Linked DNA regions of Homo sapiens. The protein of the gene in region 1 interacts with the protein of each later gene in a biochemical or structural test. Each region holds a gene or a part of one and is shown on either strand. Other genes may lie near its edges.

Region 1 (7,445 bases):
AATTGTCAAACCTGCAATAGGGTTATTATAAGTGGAATAGGGGTATGATTTAAAACATGCTGATAGATCATAAAAGCACAAGTCATTCTCCACATACTCTTAAATAAATGTATTAAGAATGCCAGCTGGGCACGGTGGCTCACGCCTGTAATCCCAGCACTCTGGGAGGCTGAGGTGGGTGGATCACAAGGTCAGGAGTTCGAGGTCAGCCTCGCCAAGATGGTGAAACCCGTCTCTACTAAAAATACAAAAATTAGCCGGGCACGGTGACGGGCGCCTGTAATCCCAGCTACTTGGGAGGCTGAGGCAGGAGAATCTCTTGAACCCAGGAGGCAGAGGGTGCAGTGAGCCGAGATCATGCCACTGCCCTCTAGCCTGGGCGACAGAGCAAGACTCCATCTCAAAAAAAAAAAAAAAAAAAAAGAATGCCTCATTACAAAACAGAAAAAGAAATCACTTTTGAGATACAGGCTTATAAACTAGGAATACTTAATATAAATGAATAAACCTGAAAATTAACATGATAGATTACTAACATTTCTGAACATGTACTAATACAAATTACCTGCTAGGATTTATACCTAAGTCGTCTTTTTCATTATAAGATGTAAAAAGCAAAATGAGAATGTCCTCTGATAATTATGACAGAATTTCATTTTAAGTATTGGAAAAAGTCTACCAGAGTGCTTCAGATAAGGAAATGATAATGCATGGAATGTCTCAAGAAGAATACACAAATATCTGGTAACCATAGTTACCATGGGTAAAGAAAGAAGGAAGAGGAACAGGGGCACAAAGAAAACATCTTTCCACTGTATTAAATATTTAAAAATCATGTATGCCTAAAGTCATAAACTGTGAGCTACTGGCACAATAGTTTTACTACATAGTGGCTACTCAATAATATACATAATAAATAACATTGGAAGATATCACTATCAAGAGAAACTTTCAAGATAACAAATCTCCTGACAAAATGGGCATATGATTAGTAAAAATGGGCTGGGCGCGGTGGCTCACGCCTGTAATTTCAGCACTTTGGGAGGCCGAGGCAGGGGGATCGCGAGGTCGAGACGGATATCATCCTGGCCAACATGGTGAAACCCCATCTCCACTAAAAATACAAAAATTAGCTGGACGTGGTGGCGCGTGACTGTAGTCCTAGCTACTCCGGAGGCTGAGGCAGAATTGCTTGAATCCAGAAGGCAAAGGTTGCCGAGATCGCGCCACTGCACTCCAGCCTGGTGACAGAGCGAGACTCAGTCTCCAAAAAAAAAAAAAATCAGTAAAAATTCAGACAGAAAAAAGCCATAAGCAAAAAATAAAAAGGGGTACAATGATGTGCTATAAACTTCAAAAAGGGGTTAAAACACACACACAGAAAATGGGAAAGACTTGAAGCAGTACAGATTAATAGTCTGGAGTGAGAATTCCTGGATTCTGACTATTTCACACACTTACTGAGCTAGTAAGCTCAGGGAACTAGAGCACATTACTTAACCCCTCTGACCCTAATCTACAGAACCGAGATTACAGAATTTACTTCGAGGAATGTAAGCAACAAAATTTAACCTGTGAAATCATATATTAGCTCAATCTGCACAATTCTATAAGTAGGTATTACATCAACCCCATTTTACATTCAAAAGTTCAGGCTTAGAAAGAGGTTTAGTTGAAGGGCATCCAACTACTAAATGATGGGCCCAAAATTCGAATTTAGATGTAATTCTTAGAGTACGTCCTCCCTCTTCTGTGGTACTTCAAGATCCTACAATCTCCATCTGGTAGAAAAGTCCTTCTTTAAACATCTGTAGAGCTCACACAACAGCTTGTCTATCCCACATATTCATAAAAATGGAATGGTTAATGTAGAGAGACTATGAGGAATGCCCTGTAAAGAGATGATAAAAGCAACAAAGGCCAGCGAAGTGGCTCAATCCTGTCATTCCAACACTTTGGGAAGCTGAGGCGAGAGGATGGCTTGAGGCCAAGAGTTCCAGACCGGCCTGAGGCAATACAGCCAGACTCTGTCTCTAAAAGGTTAAAAAAAATTGTTTTTTTTTAGCCGAATGTTGTGGCGCATGCCTGTAGTCCTAGCTACTCGGGAGGCTGAGGCAAGAGGATCGCTTGAGCCTACGAGGAGTTGGAAGCTGCCCGGAACTATGATCGCTGCACTCCAGCCTGGGCGACAGAGAGACCCTGTCTCAGGAAAAAGAAACTGTCCATAACTTCAAAAGATAAGTAATCGAAAAAAATAATCACACCAAAACAGCCTTAATACACGTACAAAGTAATAGCAATTATACATTATTAAATGTTGTAACTTGAAGGGTCTCTAGAATGTACACAAGAGAATTGTATTATAGTAGTCCAACCCTAAAAGAGAAGGGAGCAGTTCAGGAACAAAGTCTTTCTCAAAGGGCATCTAAATACGATCCTCGGAATACTAAAGTGTGACAGATTAACGAGACGACTACGAAGTCAGTCGAGATCCAAGTGGGAGCGCCAGAGCAGGGCAAGGCAGCAATGCGCTAGCTCAGAAGTTGACTGTAGTGGAAGGTAGACGGAGACCTGGAAGAGGAGGAGGATCTGAGCATTAAAATCAGCTGGCGGGAACAGGACCAGATGTACAAGAGCTGAAGCAAGCAGCAGTGGACAAAAGGAATGGGAAGAGAAACAGGCCCCAAGGCATGTGGCATTTTACGAGCCCAAATCATGACGCTTTTCCCTGGCGTCTTCGGCCCTCGGTAGGGGCCGGATTGCTGGCAGAAGGCGCAGAACCCCAAGCAGTTGGGGGCGGGGGCGCGGACCGCCGCCAACAAGGAGCTGCTGGGCTGAGAGTTCCGCGCTTCCGGTCCCAAGCAGGCCTTCTGGAACCCAGGCTACAGCCCGAAAGTTCTAGGCGGGCATTGTCACCACCGTCTCGGCGTTCTATCCCCGATCTGGCCGCCTCCTCCCCTTGGTAAACTTTTCCCGGTAACTTACCCGCCATTTCCGAGCTACGATCACCCGCGGCTGAGGAAGGACGAATCAACCCGCGCGCTCCCGGGCCGGAAGTGACCGCACAGTCTGACATATTTTCCCCGCCCACTCCCAGCGTGACGTTAGCCAATTAAAGGAGGCGTGTCCAGGAGCCCGGCGGCGGAAGCGCCTCAAGAGGCGGGGCTAACGCCGAGAAGTCTGCGCGGGCCGTTGCCTAGCCACTGCGAATGCCGTCAGCCGCTTTGCAGGCCTGAAGTGGAGAAGGAGGCCGCAAACGGACTTTCGCGGTTGAGATGCTCTCTGGCCCTAGGAAAGTTTCTCTGGGGTTGATTTGATCAATACAGACACTTTACGCCTGTTTTCCATACCCGTCCCTGAGATGTTTTGGAGACTGGCTGAAAATCTTTCCTCTTGGCCTGGACAGTGCATCCAAACACCTGAGCCCTGTGGGCAATTTTACCATTTTACCTAGGTAAAATGTAGAGGTTGAGTTTCAGTTGCGGGAGAAGCTTTCACTTGTTTTCCTCATTTGTTTCTCATTTTGCTGTAAACTTTAACACCTTTTTTCCTTTCTCCCCTGTTTTTAACGTATACAGTATGATATTTAGGTACTCTGCTTTCACTCTGCAGGTTACTAAGAACCGTTTAGCGCGCAAAAATCGTTACCTAGGCCGGGCGCGGTGGCTCACGCCTATAATCCCAGCACTTTGGGAGGCCGAGGCGGGTAGATTGCCTGAGCTCAGGAGTTCGAGACCAGTGTAGCCAACATAGTGAAACCCCGTCTCTACTAAAAATACAAAAATTAGCCAGGCATGGTGGCAGGCGCCTGTAATCCCAGCTACTCGGGAGGCTGAGGCAGGAGAATCGCTTGAACCCTGGAGGCGAAAGTTGCAGTGAGCCGAGATTGCGCCACTACACTCCAGCCTGGGCAACAGAGTGAGACTCCGTCTCAAAAAAAAAAAAAAATTGTTACCTAATAAATACCTCAAGTAGCCTGATGTAGTCTTGCATGCCACATGTCCTAGTGGTTTGAATTACATCACAAGGTGCTACCTGATTTTAGCCATAGGCCTTGTTAGTATTTAGTAGCTGTAGGAACTGCTTTCCCCAGAGGATAAACCACTATTTAGGTATCCACAAATATTCCCACAATGTTGGCTATACACCAGAATTCCTTATCTCAACAAATATTTGTTAACAGGTTTTACAGTGATGCACGCTAAAGCTAAAATGGACCCTTGGGATGATGGTCTAGAACTAACACGCCCTCTCATTTTAGAGATGAGGAAACCAAAGCCCAGAAAAGATAAACTGCCCAAGTTCATTCTCAGTATGCAACCTATGCAGAGTGCAGTTCATCAGATACTCAGCCCAGTATTTATTTGCTCAACTATATAGAGATGGCTTTCCTGAAGATAAAGATCAGAAAAGGTACTGAGAATGCCCAGATCCTTTTTCTTTCTTTTTTTTTTTTTTTTTTTTAGACGGAGTTTCACTCTTGTTGCCCAGGCTGGAGTGCAATGGCACAATCTCAGCTCACCACAGCCTCCGCCTCCCGGGTTCAAGCGATTCTTCTGCCTCAGCCTCCTGAGTCGCTGGGATTACAGGCATGCGCCACCACACCCAGCAATTTTGTATTTTTGTAGAGACGGGGTTTCTCCATGTTGGTTAGGCTGATCTCGAACTCCCAACCTCAGATGATCTGCCCATCTCGGCCTCCAAAAGTGCTGGGATTACAGTCGTGATCCCAAGAAAAGGTTTCAAGATCCTTTTTCTTGAAACCTAATGATACACAAGAAATTACAGTCATAGGCCGGGCGTGGTGGCTCACGCCTGTAATCCCAGCACTTTGTGATGCCGAGGCGGGCGGATCACGAGATCAGGAGATCCAGACCATCCTGACTAACATGGTGAAACCCTGTCTCTACTAAAAATACAAAAAAAGTAGCCGGGCGTGGTAGCGGGTGCCTGCAGTCCCAGCTACTCAGGAGGCTGAGGCAGGAGAATGGCGTGAACCTGGAAGGCGGAGCTTGCAGTGAGCCGAGATCCCGCCACTGCACTCCAGCCTGGGCAAGAGCGAGACCCCGTCTCAAAAAAAAAAAAAGAAATTACAGTCATAATGTTAAGACAGAAAACTGAAATCAATGAGACTAATGACATTATGGATCAAAAAAGGAAAACAATCTTTTTCTTTAATAATCATTTTTGGCTAGGCACGGTGGCTCACACCTGTAATCCCAGCACTTGGGAGGCCAAGGCAGGCAGATCACCTGAGGTCAGGAGTTTGAGACCAGCCTGGCCAACATGGTAAAACCCTGTCTCTACTAAAAAGTACAATAAATTAACCAGGCGTGGTGACATGAGCCTGTAATCTCAACTACTTGGGAGGCTGAGGCAGTAGAATCGCTTGAACCCAGGAGGCGGAGGTTGCAGTGAGCTGAGATAGTGCCACTGCACTCCAGCCTGCTCAAGAGAGCGAGACTCCATCTCAAAAAAAAAAAAAAACTTTTCTTTTCAAAATGGCAAGACTTATCATTTCTTTCCAAAATCACCTTATCTATGGATCAATTGCTGACCAGCAATTATGATCTTTATAAGTAAGAAATCAAGAAGAATTACGTTTTAACTGTGGTATATCACAGATTATTAGTCCTGTGATATTATGGTTAGTTGTAGGAAAAAAATATGATGAAACTTACTGATATATTGTATGACTAGCATTTAATGTGATTTGCTTGCAGAATTGAGGTTTTATATTGTCCTCGTCTTAGATGTTCACTTTTTTTTTTTTTTTTTTTTTTGAGACAGGGTCTCACTCTCACCCAGGCTGGATTGCAATGATGCAATCATAGCTCACTACAGCCTCCAGCCTCCAACTGCTGGGCTCAAAAGATCCTCCTGCCTCTCAGCCTCCCAAATAGCCAGGACTACAAATGTGTGCCATTGTGCACAGCTAATTTTTTTGTTTTTTGTAGAAATGGAGTCTCAGTATGTTGCCCAGGCTGGTCCCAAACTCCTGGCCTCAAGCAATCCTCTCAGCTTGGCCTCCCGGAATGCTAGGATAATAGGTGTGAGCCACCATGTCCATCCTCACATTTTTTTTTTTTAATGTTACAGAATAGATGTTTTGGTACAGTTTACCTAAAAGATAAAAGAATGACTTATTTTGGAAAGGTAATGTGAAAATTACCCAAAAGGAAAAAAATTCTCTTTTTTTTTGTAGGGATTTCTTTCCTTTTTTAACTTATATTTTACTTTGTTCTAAAGAGAATTTAAGAAAGCAACTATTACAATCATGGAATAAAATTTCTATGAAAGGAATATGCTATCCTCATATATATATGGAAGAGACAACATATCTTGTGGGAAGTTTACTGCCCTACTAGTCCCAGTTCTACTACTTCATGCTTGTTCAACCTTGTTGCATCTATTAAGTGGAGATAATAGTACTGCCCAGTCACCACACTGGGTTGCTGTAAAAACTAAACGGAATAATATTTGTGAACGACCTTTGTAAACTCTAAAACTCTATGCAGGTATGAAGTGGTATTACTATGATAACATTTATTCTAGTAAGGGAGATTTGGAAAAGGCATTTTCTTCAGAGAAAAGGGCCATATTACACTATTAGGTATGAACTGGCAACCATGTGTTGGTACAGGCTCAAGTTCATATGGACTGATAAACTTCACTATCTTGCTTTGAAACCTCCAGAATGGATTAAAATTTGGCACAAAAAAATATGGTCATCGGGCCGGGCGCAGTGGCTCATGCCTGTAATCCCAGCACTTTGGGAGGCCGAGGCAGGCAGATCACGAGGTTAGGAGATCGACAGCATCCTGGCTAACACGGTGAAACCCCGTCTCTACTAAAAACACAAAAAATTAGCCAGGCGTGGTGGCGGGCGCCTGTAGTCCCAGCTACTTGGGAGGCTGAGGCAGGAGAATGGCATGCACCCAGGAGGCGGAGCTTGCAGTGAGCCGAGATCATGCCACTGTACTCCAGCCTGGGAGACAGACTCCGTCTCAAAATATATATATATATATATGGTCATCAGAAAATTGATGCAGGAAATCAATTTTAAGAAAAATGCATGTATGTAATGTGTCTTCATTTCAAAATGCATACCTTTACACAGACAAATAACAGTAGTTAGTTAGCTCATTTTTTTAGCTCGTAGTGCTAATGAGCATAAAGTTATGAGTCTCAGTTCCCAGAGCAATTATCCAGAAACCATTATCCAGCTAGATGACTTCCAAATGGGATACAAGAAAGAAAATAGGCTGGGCGCGGTGGCTCACGTCTGTGATCCCAGCACTTTGGGAGGCCGAGGCAGGCAAATCACATGAAGTCAGGAGTTCGAGACCAGCCTGGCCAACATGGTGAAACTCCATCTCTACTGAAAATACAAAAATTAACCGGGTGTGGTGGCATACACCCGTAATTCCAGCTACTCAGGAGGC
Region 2 (7,242 bases), about 170 Mb from region 1:
AATAATATATTTTAGGAGCATCTTTAGCCAGAATAGTAAATTTTAATTTTAAATATAATATATAAAAATATATATTAAAATTTAAATTTCAATGTGAATTTAAACCTTTAATTACCACTGACAGATCAAGAACACCATCATCTCAGACAAACACCACCACTTTAAGTTCCAGCTCCCTTTCTAGCCTCATGCATTTCAAGGAAATCACTTATCTTCTAACCACAAGCAGCCAGAAAGAGCAGACAGTAAAACACAGACAAGACAGCTTGAGCACAGAGGGAGGTTGAGGGGAAGTCTTTTAGGTAACTGCCAAACTTCACTGTCATACAATGGGTCCCAGTAAAACAGTGGGCCTAAATAAGCACATTAGTTTCTCTTTAGTGTTCTAAGATAGGGAAGCTAAAAGCAGATTCAGGGTGGGTATGCCTGCAGCTGCAGGAAGATGTACGGGAACAGACACACAACTCTCCCTCCCAGATAAGCACAACAAAGAGAAACAGAAGCAGTCCAAGTCTCTAATAAACCCTCCCACGCCAAATCCTTAAAACTCTTAGTCTGTAAGAGAGTGGGCTCTGACTTAACTCAGCCAGAAGCCCCTCTCAGGTTTTTTTTCTCTAAAATAAACCTGTCCTTGACTGTGGAGCCACCTTTTGTGTTTCTTTCCTCTTTCTTTAATTCTTACAACCAAAAAAATAGTTTTCCTCCATTATCTAGAAATCTCTCTTACAGGAAAATACAACCTACACTATCATGTAAGCATTTCAATTAACTTTTGTTTTACTTACTTAAACTGAGAGGTTATTATATAAAAGTATTAATTATAACTATTAATAATAATTTATCTTTTATGACAAAAATACATGAACATTCACTTGTTTGTGCCTTGTACCAACTTTTGAGATTGGTTTATCAGTTATCATTATTATCTAAAGATAATTTTAAAGATCATGGAACTGATACTCAGAAAAGCTAAATGTCTTGACAAATCTAGTAAATGTTAGAGCAGAAACTCAAACCCTGGCTTTCTGAATGAAAGTCGTAATTTCCCTCGACATATCTCCTTATTCACTCACTCATGCATTCATTCATTTATCTAAAACATTTCTTAAGCCTCTATTACTTTCTAGACATCCTGTCAGGCATGAAGACACACAGGAGGGTAAAATTCAACCTTGGAATGCAATTTCTTTGAGGAACCAGACATTAAAAAAAAAAACTGAACAAAATAGTACATTTTAAAAAGCTGCAAGACATATTTGTACCAACTGCTATAAGCTCATAAGTGAAAAGTAAAGGGCATAATTATGGCTGCAGAGGATCAAGGAGAATTCAAAGGAACTTTGAAAGTTCACCAACAAGATTTGAGGACAGACATTCTAGGAAGAGACAACAATATGACCATCATTTTAACAATTTTGATGTTTGGAGAAAATGAGTGTGACAGGCTGTGTCTACAGCAGAGGGGACCCAAGCCATCAGGGTAGCAGAGGCTGAGAGCAACATTGAGCTTGCCAGGGGCCTTGACAACGATGCTCATAAGAAGGAGAGTTAGGAGTTAAATCACCAAAAGTACATTTTAAAAAAAGATCAGGAGTTTTCAATGGGGCAAGCAGAGACAGTGAGTTGAATTACAGTAATCCTGGTGAGAAATGATAGGAATTTGAGTTAAGCCACACTGGGAATGGGAAGTCAGGTTCTCATTTGAGCAATCAGCTTTGGGTAACTAAGCCAATGTAACGTGGAGCAAAGAAGTCAGATCCAATATAGGACCCACTGTATGATTTCATTTATATAAAGTACAGGATCAGGCAAAATGAATCTGTGTGTTAGAAGTCCAGCAAGTGCTTACCAGGGTAGTGGCTGGAGTGCAGCATGCACTTCTGGCGCTGGTGATGCTTTCTCTCTGAATCTGCAGGCTATTTACCTGGCTGTGATTGCTTTGTGAAATTCATCAGGGTGCACATCCAGAATATGTGTAATCTGGTGCATGTATGCTATGCTTTTGTTAAAAAGTTAAACAAGGAGGGAAAGAAGCTAGAGATGTTGCTGAAGTTACTAGTTGAGAAGGTACTCTAGGAAAGACAGGAAGACAAGGACGGAAGGCAGAACAGATCTGGAGTGGAAGATATTGCATTCGAAGGTCACGTGCTGAGTTCTCTCCAAGACGCTGCCAGTTACTAATGTGGTGATGCTCAGTAAGCATTCTTGAAGGCTAAGTCCTTGACATATTTGTTAAAAAAATTTTAAGGTTTCCTATTAAAAGAATATACACAAACTCAAATATAAGATTCAACTACTGCTATTTTTATGTCAAAGTTTTTGTTTTTGTTTCCAACTTTTCTAATTATTAATAACTGTTTCTGGAAAACCCAAATTCGTTAGTGTTGTGGGCAAACTCAGAAAGTAGTACAAACTTCCCAAACCGCCTCTTTCCAAACACCAAGTGTAATAGGGACCTGCCCTTTGCATAGACCCCTTCTTGCTTCCAAATGGCAGGAGGGACAGGTTTGCTCCACAAATCCCCTGTTCCAGCCCAATTCTGTGATTTAGGAAGGACTAGGTGCCCACTCCAAAATTCACTGAATTATTTTCTCATAGGACAACATGCTCACCATGCAAGGGTAAATGGTGACCTCAAGCTTTGGAGAAGCTCTCCAGCTTGTGCATACCCCCAGCCCCTTCTCGCCTTACCCCACTGCCCAGTGGTTGAGAATCCTGATTTCTGTCTAGGACCATGTACTCACCAGCTTCCTTAAGCAAAAGCAATCCTCTCTTTGCTTCCTCAAGGGGCAGCACAAAGGATGTTTTGGCTGTGTGGAAACAGAAGCCGCATTTGTAGTTGCACTGGCGAGTGAAGTGATAGTTGACGCTGGTTGGGGTGGTGGGCAGAGGAGGGTCCTCTTCCTCCTCTTTGGTCTCATCTGGCCCTCTCAGGACCAGCTGCTGCTTTCTCCTCTTGGTAGCTAGCAGCCAGAAGGTTGCCCTCAGCCAGCAGAACAGCGGGACCAGGCTCCTCCACAGAGAGCTCAGAGGTTGCCTGAACACACTCAAGAGCTTCCCAGCAAAAGCAGCAGGTGTAAGCACCCACATTGTGGCAGATGCCTGGAGCAGAGCAGTCTCTGTATGCCAGGGACTCTCTTTATATAGGGATGGAAATCAGCAGTCTCTGAGCAACCTGTCATTGGGGAGCAGGACACACCTTCTTTGACTAACACTCAGCTGAGTTAGAGTTTCGATTTTTCCACATGTGAAACTGAAAGTTGAAACAGGGCCAAGACTGAAGACTAGAGATCGGGGCGAGCATTCCTGGTTTCTCTGCTCACGGCTGCCTCAGTCCACTTGTATTATAACAGTCTCTCTAGCTTGATGTAGTTACACATGAGGATAGCAGTCTCTATCAATATCTAGCTCTCTGTCTGATAGAGATAGACAAGGTGCATTAATCAGCACGCTTTGTACTTGTTGCATTGCTTTCTCTTGACATAGCCAAGTAACAGTTTTTGCTCCATCATGGTGAAGGGGTTTCTTTTTAAAGCCAAATAATAAACAGACTGATTGGCTGGTGGAGGATGAGTACAGGATCATTCACCTCAAGACCCCTTTCAGATCACAGTAAAAAGGCATGGAACAAAATTGAATTTAGGTCTTATTCCATCAGCTATTCAGCCTAATTTATGCAAGGTGACAGTGTTAAAATTTAGATATTTACATCTTCCTATATTTTGATATCACTTTTTATAGATGTTTTTAACTAGAGGAAATCCAATGCTTTTCTAAGATGCTTCCTAATTGGTGAGAATTACTGCGACACATCATTTATTTACCTTTACAGTTTTTTTAGAAAGCCTTGTTGACCTTTTTACTGAAATCTTCCTTTTAGCCCTCTTTCATCAGAACTGTGTGTAAGTGTGTGGTCTTGTGCTTTCGTGACACCTGTAGGAAGTTGGAAGAGTCCTAGTAGCTGAACTTCCAGAGCCACAAATCATGTAGCTGGGTGACTGAGTAAGCGACTTTATTTCTCTGGATTTCCATTTCTTCATCAGCAAAGCAACGTATCTCAGGCGATTTTTGTGCAGAGTAAAACTGCTAATTTTTGTGAAGAATTCAGAATAGTGCCTGGCAAACTTTAAGTGTTCAGTTAGGGTTAGCTCCTGTTATTCTGATACTGTCATATTCTGAATAGAAACAGAAATGATTTATTTTACTTAAAAAAAATTAAACATGTTTAACTTAACATTTAACATCTGCAAAATTGTATGCTTAATGATTACCAAATATTCAACAGTAGATATGTCTCAGGTCCTTGAAATCTCAGCCCAAAGTTTCTTAAACTCTCATGCCATGGTCTTGCACAATTGAAAACCACTTTTGGATAGATCTCACTTCTTCATAAACATGTGATCATGAGAGGCATACAGGCACCTGTTAAATTTGAATCAAATTCTTTTGGGTTAACTTGGTTCCCCTTTCTGGCTGGAGCAACCTTTGAAGTCTCAAAGGTTAGGTCAGCACGATCCTAGTGGGGGTCTCTTGCAGGCATCTGTTAAAATAGGCTAGGAAAATCTTAAAGAGGCTCCAAATGCTTAGCCCAAACATAAGGAGGATCAAGACTTGTAGGGTGGCATGCAGAAGGAACCCTACTGCAGGGGAAGCCGGCTGGAAATATCTGGAGATCAGAAACTTAACCTAGAAGGTCCAGCCAGGAGGCTTTTTGAAGCTGTTTTTCAGAGATTTGGCTAGCCTTAAGATCTTAGATGTTTCAAATTCAACCTGCCTGGAAGTATTTACCCTGTGGAAAGTGGCAGCAACAGCACAAACATCACTCTGTGCAGGGAGGAGATAGTCTAAAGCAATGTGTTTGTCTAGGACCACACGAGCAAGGGAGTCTATGGACCTCTGTTGCACCCTGATGGCCTGGGTGGTAGAGCAGGCAATCCTGCGAACAGTTCAGGAAGGGTTTCTGATCATTTATGAATTCCAAGCAGAATCTAGTTTAAATTGGGACCGGAAAAACCTTCCTAATCTAGCTCCTTCTAGGGTTAACCCTTCTAGATGAATTATATCCTTGAGAGTATCCACAACTATTATCTTCATAATCTGAGGGATTATCATGAGTGTTGGATTATAGCTGTTAGAGAACAGGGCAGGTAGTGTTGGGGATAACTGAATAGATGGGAATTTGGGTAAAAGGTATTTCCATGGCCAAATCTCCTGGTGAGGATAACTCAAGCATTATTTCTCCTTTCTGGGAGAATAAAATATGGGCCTGGAATGTTTCTAAGAAGTCCCTGCCTAGGAAGTGTATGGAAGCCCAAAGGAAAAACAACTGCCCGTGAGGGGTACTAGTTGGAAAAGAATAGGTGAAGATTAGGAACCATCATAGGTTGGTTGGCTACCCCAACCATCTGGATGAATTCAGAACTCCAGGGAGGGTCCATGGAAAGCATGCTGGGGTTAAGGATGGACAGAGTAGCCCCAGTGTTGACCAGAGCTCTGATGAGTTTTCTCCAATCTTAATACCTAATTCCCCTAGTTGAATAATTCGAGTAGGGGAAATGTCCCAAGAGGCTCTATAGTTTTGCTTGAGGGAAGAGGGCTGGTAAACTTTATCAGGATTTAACTGTATCCAGATATTGTAGGAAATTAGGAGAACTCAGGATCCAGTCCAGTCTACAGGTAGAAAACCAGAACTTGAAAACAGTGCATAGGGCTTTAACCTAAAGTAGGTGCACGTTAGTTTTTCTTAAGAACATGACTTTTTCTCTCCACATTAATCATACAGGAACTTTCAGGTTTTAGAACCTCTAGAGGCTAGGAAGCCAAATCAAGGCAGGCTTTAGATTTTACTTAGGGTCTTAAGGTTCTTGGGCCTACCAGGAAGTGACAAGTTTTATGTATTCACTGTAAGGCTGGGAACTCTTGAAGCCAGGCATGTGATGACCCTTCTTAAATATGACTTTTCAATCAAAGCCTAGTAATATAATCAGTATTTCCAATAGTATCCTGCTTACAAAGGGAGAGCAGATTTTTACTGAACTTACAGAAATAAAATAAGAATGCTCACAAATAGTGTCTGAATTTTGGAGGACTCAAGTAGGGAGAAAGGCAAATGCTTCCACTTTTGTTCATAAAAGTATACTTCCCCAAATTATTGCAAACTATAACTAATGAAAGAAAAATTCCTTGAATCTGAAAAAAAATTTAAGTGTAGAACCAACATTTTAAATAAAAGTCATAAAGTTATCCTTATCAACTACTTACTTTCGGTTAATTAATTTTGCTTTCCTTAATTAGTAATTTTGGGCTATAGCTGATTGCAAATGCTTCTAGAGAAGAATTTAAAACAATAATCGTGGATGAGAAAAATCCAGAACAGCTATGATCAAAACTCTGATGAGAGTTTACAAGGAAATTGTAAGAAATAATGTAGAAATAATTGCAAGAAAATTTAAAAGAAAATTTAGGTATTTTTGTGGCATACAATCATTAAACTAAATAATCATACTCAAGACTGATAACACATATTATGATATATTAGTCAATTCTTGCATTGCTGTAAAGAAATACCCAAGATTGGGTCATTTATAAGGAAAATAGGTTGAATTGGCTCATTCTTATGCAGGCTGTACAGGAAGCATCATGCTGGCATCTGCTTGGCTTCTGGGGAGGCCTCAGGAAACTTAAAATCATGACAGAAGGAAAAGGGGGAGAAGATGTCTCGCATGTCCAGAGCAGGAGCAAGAGAGAAAGATGCTGGGGCAGGAGGAGGCGCTACACACTTTTAAACGATCAGATCTCACAAGAACTCACTATCCTGGGGACAGTACCAAGTTGACAGTACTAAGCCATTCATGAGGACCTGCTCCCGTGATCCAATCACTTCCCACCAGGTTGCACCTCCAACATTGAGGTTTACAATTTCAACATGAGATTTGGTTGGGGACACAAATCTAAACCATATCATATAACATCTTGGAATTTTAAGATCTCATGCAATTTGGAACACATATTAGTAACATATTTATATAAATATAACTTAAAGGGAGTTAAGCATCATTTCTTATTTGATATGCTTCCCATATGATTTGCCAAATAAGCCTAATCATTTAGTATCTCTTCAAGATCAAAAAGGCTTAATTTAGGGTTTTGATATTGAGGAAACCTGCCAAAGATGTCAAAAGGTTCAAAATACTTGATTAAGCAGAATCATATGTCACTCCTAAATAAGCAAAGTGATAATCA

Evidence for each region.
Region 2: of the proteins of HAT1 (region 1) and RSAD2, one has a biochemical effect on the other in vitro, tested with the Homo sapiens proteins (one study listed by BioGRID).

What each region holds. Positions count from the first base shown.
Region 1 is NC_000002.12:171,918,048-171,925,492, reverse strand, and holds the start of HAT1 (histone acetyltransferase type B catalytic subunit), read right to left. Parts: upstream 3,033-7,445; 5' UTR 2,993-3,032; coding exon 2,986-2,992; intron 2,572-2,985; exon of another isoform or gene 2,376-2,571; intron 1-2,375. UniProt on the Homo sapiens protein: Histone acetyltransferase that plays a role in different biological processes including cell cycle progression, glucose metabolism, histone production or DNA damage repair. Coordinates histone production and acetylation via H4 promoter binding.
Region 2 is NC_000002.12:6,873,649-6,880,890, reverse strand, and holds the start of RSAD2 (S-adenosylmethionine-dependent nucleotide dehydratase RSAD2), read right to left. Parts: upstream 3,115-7,242; 5' UTR 3,091-3,114; coding exon 2,745-3,090; intron 1-2,744.